Homo sapiens: one gene and its partner. The protein of the gene in region 1 purifies or fractionates together with the protein of each later gene. This does not show direct contact. Each region holds a gene or a part of one and is shown in the gene's direction. Other genes may lie near its edges.

What was found. Proteins that work in one complex are often made in the same cells at the same time.
Region 2: the proteins of UBXN8 (region 1) and TMEM165 purify together in Homo sapiens (affinity purification with mass spectrometry, with the first as the bait; one large-scale study listed by BioGRID). This does not show direct contact.

What each region holds. Positions count from the first base shown.
Region 1 is NC_000008.11:30,764,335-30,767,506, forward strand, and holds the end of UBXN8 (UBX domain-containing protein 8), read left to right. Parts: intron 1-1,892; coding exon 1,893-2,060; 3' UTR 2,061-2,672; downstream 2,673-3,172. UniProt on the Homo sapiens protein: Involved in endoplasmic reticulum-associated degradation (ERAD) for misfolded lumenal proteins, possibly by tethering VCP to the endoplasmic reticulum membrane. May play a role in reproduction.
Region 2 is NC_000004.12:55,419,957-55,423,315, forward strand, and holds part of TMEM165 (putative divalent cation/proton antiporter TMEM165 precursor), read left to right. Parts: intron 1-3,359. UniProt on the Homo sapiens protein: Putative divalent cation:proton antiporter that exchanges calcium or manganese ions for protons across the Golgi membrane.

The sequences.
Region 1 (3,172 bases):
TAATTTTTTATTTTTAGTAGAAATGGGGTTTTGCCATGTTGGCCAGGCTGGTCTCAAACTCCTGGGCTCAAGTGATCCACCCACCTTGGCCTACCCAAGTGTTGGGATTACAGGCGTGACCCACCACGACCAGCCCATTTTACTATTTATGTATGATAGTTATTTTTTATAAGGAACTTAAATCAAGGAAGAGATAAACATCTCAGTAGACTGGCAGGGAAAGAAACACATGAATATCATGATTTCCCGAAGAAGACTCAGTGATAGATAAATATATGAAAAAAATGTTTGGCCTCACATAGAATCAATGAAGTACAAATAAAATGAAACAGTATTTTCTACTTAACTAGACTGTCAAAGATTAAAAAGAAATAGTACCCAGATTTGGCAAATGCGTTGGGAAAACAGGGATTCTTAAAACTTTAATAGTTTTTTGGCCGGGTACCATGGCTCACGCCTGTAATCCCAGCACTTTGGGAGGCTGAGGCAAGCGGATCATGAGGTCAAGAGATCAAGACCATCCTGGCCAACATGGTGAAACCTTGTCTCTACTAAAAATACAAAAATTAGCCGGACGTGGTGGTGCGTGCCTGTAGTCCCAGCTACTCAGGAGGCTGAGGCAGGAGAATCGCTTGAACCCAGGAGGCAGAGGTTGCAGTGAGCCAAGATCGTGCCACTGCACTCCAGTCTGGGAGACAGCAAGACTCCATCACAAAAAACAAAACAAAACAAAACCTTTAATATTTTTTATTTTTTTAAAAATAGAACAGGTCTCACTATGCTGACCAGGCCAATCTTGAACTCCTGGGTTCAAATGATTCTCCTGCCTCATCCTTCCAAAGTGCTGGGATTACAGGTGTGAGCCACTGTGCCTGGCCATCATAACTTGTTAATGTGAATGTAAATAAGATCAGTGTTCCTGACAGATAATTTACCATTATTTTTATTTATTTTTGTAAGATTGGTTCTCACTCTGTCACCAAGGCTGAAGCACAGTGGTGCAATCACAGCTCACTGAAACCTCAACCTCCCCGGACTCAGGTGATCCTTGCACCTCACCTCCTGAGTATCTGGGATTACAGGCATGCACCACCAGGCCTGGCTAATTTTTGTATTTTTTGTAGAGACTGGGTTTCGCCATCTTACCCAGGCTGGTCTCAAATTTCTGTGCCATTATATGTTTCGGGAAAAAAAATTTTATATATATATATATGTGTGTGTGTATATATATAGTTTTGAGACCGAGTCTTGCTCTGTCACCCAGGCTGGAGTGCGGTGGTGGGATCTCGGCTCACTGCAACCTCCGCCTCCTGGGTTCAAATCATTCTCCCTCCTCAGCCTCCTGAGGGCCTGGGATTACAGGTGCCCGCCACCACGCCTGGCTAATTTTTGGCTGGGCGCAGTGGCTCACGGCCATAATCCCAGCACTTCGGGAGGCCCAGGCAGGCAGATCACTTGAGGTCAGAAGTTCAAGACCAGCCTGGCCAACATGGTGGAACCCCGTCTCTACTAAAAATACAAAAATTAGCTGGGCATGGTAGTGGGCGCCTGTATAATCCAAGCTACTCTGAAGGCTGAGGCAGGAGAATCGCTTAAACCCAGGTGGTGGAGGTTTCAGTGAGCCGAGATCATGCCATCGCACTCCAGCCTGGGTGACAGAGCGAGACTCCCATCTCAAAAAAAAAAAAAAAGAATATTCCTATCTCTGAACTCATGGCAAGCTATTTTCCTTTAAGTTCTAGAAAGTTTCTTTGAAAGGTATGAAACTTCTGTCTCATTACTCCTAGGGATATGATTTTACATTGACAAAATTATAAAATGTTATGGTGGTCTAAAGGGACATGGTGTGTAAAGTATTTGATAATGACTAAGCCAAGCTTTTCATCTTCTAGGTCTTATTTGACTGGATGACGAGAATTGGGTACCACATATCTCTATACAGCCTTTCTACTTCCTTTCCCAGACGGCCTCTGGCAGTGGAGGGAGGCCAGTCGCTGGAGGACATAGGAATAACTGTGGACACTGTACTCATCCTGGAGGAGAAGGAGCAGACCAACTAGGAAAGAAGGGAGAGCTCCCTGTTTGCATGAAGTCAGTTATGCTATGACCTTCTGGCACAATAAAGGCTTCACTTTCAAATCACACTATACCTTGATTGAGCTCATGGCAGTAAACTTTGAACATTGATATCCATGGGAATAGGATTAGAAAAGGATTGCTTTCTATATATAATAATCTGTGGACTGTGCCATTTTACAGTGTACCAAATGAGAATGAGGTTGAAATGTATGCAGTAAGGTACTCAGTAATTAATTGGTATTTTTTCCCAGCTGACATGATTTCTCAGTGTTAGAAAACAAACCCTTAGAACTTTCCTTTCTGCCTCTTCAATCCATCTTACCACACAATATTTCATGATTCAAATTCTTCAAAGTCTTATACGCAGGAATGTTTATTCTGCTGTATTTCTGTGAAATTAAAAACTTGGAAGAAGCTTCAAAGCTCTTGGAGGCTTTAAAGTTCTTTCTGTTGGGTGTGCATTACAGTTTACTTAACTGATGTTTGCGATTTATATAATTTTGCCTTGTATTAAATGTTACAAAGTTCCAAATGAATCAGTATTTTAAAAAATAAAACTATGAAAGCATTAAAATATAGGTGAATTTTTAAAACTGTATCTATCTCATCATTTCCCTCTCTTGCTTATAAGCCTATAATGATAAAGTCATGCACTGTAACACCAAGTTCAGACACCAAATGTGGTATAAAAGGCTTTTAACTTTGTTCTACTCACTCCTTTTTTTTCTCATGCTCTGTTTTAAAAGTCTGCTCAGGCCGGGTGTGGTGGCTCACGCCTGTAATCCCAGCACTTTGAGAGGCCGAGGCGGGCAGATCTTGAGGTGAAGAGATTGAGACCAGGCAGGGCACAGTGGCTCACGCCCATTATCCCAGCACTTTGGGAGGCCAAGGCGGGTGGGCCATGAGGTCAGGAGTTCAACACCAGCCTGGCCAAGATGGTGAAATCCCATCTCTACTAAAAATACAAAAATTAGCCAGGTTGAGTAGCAGGTGCCTGTAATTCCCAACTACTTGGGAGACTGAGGCAGGAGAATCGCTTGAACTCGGCCAGCAGAGGTTTCAGTGAGCTTAGATCATGCCACTGCACTCCAGA
Region 2 (3,359 bases), on another chromosome or scaffold:
GTGGTAGCGGGTGCCTGTAATCCTAGCTGCTAGAGAGGCTGAGGCAGGAGAATCACTTGAAACCGGGAGGCAGAGGTTGCAGTGAGCCGAGATGGTGCCACTGCTCTCCAGCCTAGGTGACAGAGTGAGACACTATCTTAAGAAAAAAAAATATATATATATATACATATATATTTATTTATTTATTTATTTTATTTATTTATTTAATGGCTGTACCCTATATTCTTCTTGATTTCTAGCCTTTTATTGGCTCTCAGATTGCCAGAGTTGGGACTCAATAGTAAGTAACCATTTTGTTGAGGTGGTAGTGATTCTACCAGGGTGAGTTATCATGACAGCAGAATCACTGCGTTTTTCTCTCTACTCTGTGGCATAGACTCTATGCCATAGAGTGACGTGTGAAAGGCTTGAGGCTCCCTACCTACGAGACACCCTGGTCCATTCTAGCAGTATGGCACGTGCTGACTGGGTTTTGAGTCTCTTGCTGTAAAATCACATTACTGCACTTCCCTGCATTTTCTCATCCAAAAATGGGGATTACCTGCTTTGTGGATCGGTTTGCAGATGAAATAACACACGCAGGGTATCTAGCATGGTCCCCCACATGGCACATTCAGTGTTAGCCACACTTCCATACTAACTGCCCTGCGGGGATATTTAATGAGCTCTTAAATGGCAGAAATGTTGTGTCTTTTCCTGTTCCCTTAGTATTCCTATTTTTGTTGGTAATTTTTCTTATGAACCATGCAGTTGTCTAGTTCAGGCCATTTTAGTATGCAGTTTTATCTTTGCTTCCAACATGATTTAATGTTCCCAAATTGGATTTCACATAATCCTAGTGTCCTTTGAGACTTGAATTGGTTCTAGGCCAAAAAAGGGTGAGGGGGAAGGAAGAAATTCAGAGTCAAATTTGGCAAATAATATATCCCTGTCGTTTTGTTTTTTCTTTTTAAGACTTGGGCCAGGTGTGGTGGCTCACGCGTTTAATCCCAGCACTTTGGGAGGCTGAGGCAGGCAAATCACCTGAGGTCAGGAGCTCGAGACCAGCCTGGCCAACATGGTGAAAAATACAAAAATTATCCAGGCATGGTGGCCCACGCCTGTAGTCCCAGCTACTCGGGAGGCTGAGACAGGAGAATCTCTTGAACCCGGGTGAGCCGAGATCGCGCCACTGCACTCCACTCTGGTCGACAGAGCTAGATTCCATCTCAAAAAAAAAAAAAAAAAAAAAAGACGACTCAGTATACAAATAAAGACTGGAAAGTCCTATATTAAAGGAACTAGTTAAATACTAGTTTATTTTACTTAATCTAGTGAATTTTTAAATATTTTCTTTCTTTCTTTTTTTTTTTTTTTTTTTTTGAGACAGGGTCTGGCTCTGTCAACCAGGCTGGAGTGCAGTGGCACAATCTCAGCTCACCTCAACCTCCACCTCCTGGGCTCAAGCCATCCTCCCACCTCAGCCTTCTGAGTCTGGGACTACAGGTTCCCACCACCATGCCTGGCTAATTTTGTATTTTTTGTAGAGACAGGGTTTTGCCATGTTGCAGAGGCTGGTCTCGAACTCCTGAGTTCATGCAATCTGACCACCTTGGCCTCCCAAAGTGCTGAGATTACGCCCGGCCTAAATATTACTTTCAAATAGAACCATCTTCATGGGTAGCAGTTTATAATACACAAGTAGAATTTGGGAAATGTAGTCCCAGTCTTCCATTCTTCACAGTGGATGCTTCAGCCAGTTTCCTGTCTCTGCACACACACTGCCCGACAGCGGGCTTTCCCTTCTCCTTCAGAGCAGTAGCAGTTCCCTTTCTTCATTCCCACCCATCACAGTGGCAGCCCCCTCTGCCCTCCTGTATTCTGAATCCCACCCTTATAATATGCTTAGATTTTGCCTTTCTCCCAGCCGTTTTGTGAGCATTGTTCGTGTGTACCAATTTTTTCTCATCCTTTAAAAAGAAAAAAAAAAAGCCCCTTTTCTCAATTGTACATCGCAAATCCAACTCTTGCCCTCCTGCAGTGTCAGAGGACTTGGCTGTGATGGGAATAAGCCTTGGCTCTGTTCTCCTTGCATACTTAGCCCATGGGAACCCAGTTTCTGGCCTCACCAGGAATGTTGTTGTGCTTTGAGCTCCCTGTGGCCTTGCATGATGCCTCCGTTGGTCCTTACAGGAGGTGATTGGCTGGCCACCTCACTTGCTTTCTCCTGTGGACCCTTCTTTCTCTGTCCTTCCTTGAATGCTGCCTTTGTCCCTCATGATTATGCTATCAACATTCTTCTCTTTCTGCTTTCTCTGTAACAGGTTTATTGACTCTTTTTTTTGAGAGTCTTGCTCTGTCACCCAGGCTGGAGTACAGTGGCACAATCTTGGCTTGCTGCAACCTCTGCTTCCTGGGTCCAAGCGATTCTTCTGCCTCAGCCTCCCGAGTAGCTAGGATTAGAGACATGTGCCACCAAGTCTGGCTAGTTTTTGTATTTTTAGTAAAGATGGGGTTTCACCATGTTGTCCAGGTTGGTCTCAAACTCCCAACCTCAGGTGATCTGCCTGCCTCGGCCTCCCAAAGTGGTGAGATTACATGTGTGAACCATCCACCCACCCTGATTCAACTGACTCTTAACTTTAAAAATCACATTGGTCTTACCATACATAGTTCATCAATTGTGGGAGAGAAACTTGGGTGTCATGCTTTATTTATTTATTTTTTTTTTGAGATGGAGTCTCACTCTGTCACCCAGGGTGGAGTGCAGTGGCACGATCTCAGCTCACTGCAACCTCAGCCTCCTGGATTCAAGCCAATTCTCCTGCCTCAGCCTGCCCAGTAGTTGGGACTACAGGTGCCTGCCACCACACCCGGCTAATTTTTTGTATTTTTAGTAGAGACAGCATTTCACCATGTTTCAGTCTCCTGACCTCGTGATCCACCCTCCTCGGCCTCCCAAAGTGCTGGCATTACAGGCGTGAGCCACTGCACCCAGCCTATTTTTCTTTTTTTAATAAGAGATGGAGTCTTGCTTTGTCACCCAGGATGGAATTTGTAGCATAGTAGTGTGATCATAACTCACTGTAGCTTCAAACTCAGGCTCAAGTGATCCTCTCACCTCAGCCTCCTGAATAGCTGGAACTACATGCATGAACCACTGCACCATTATTTTATTTTTAAGAGACGGGATCTCGCTGTACTGCTCAGGCTAGCCTTGAACTCCTGGCCTCAAGTGATCCTTCTGCCTTAGCCTCCTGAGTGGCTGGCTCCACTCTGCTTGGCTCTGATATTTTTCCATAAAGCCTATCATTCATTTATCATGGAGGTATGTTAATTTTGCCTTCTTAATTTCTCTCAAATTCACCTGCTCTTTGCCT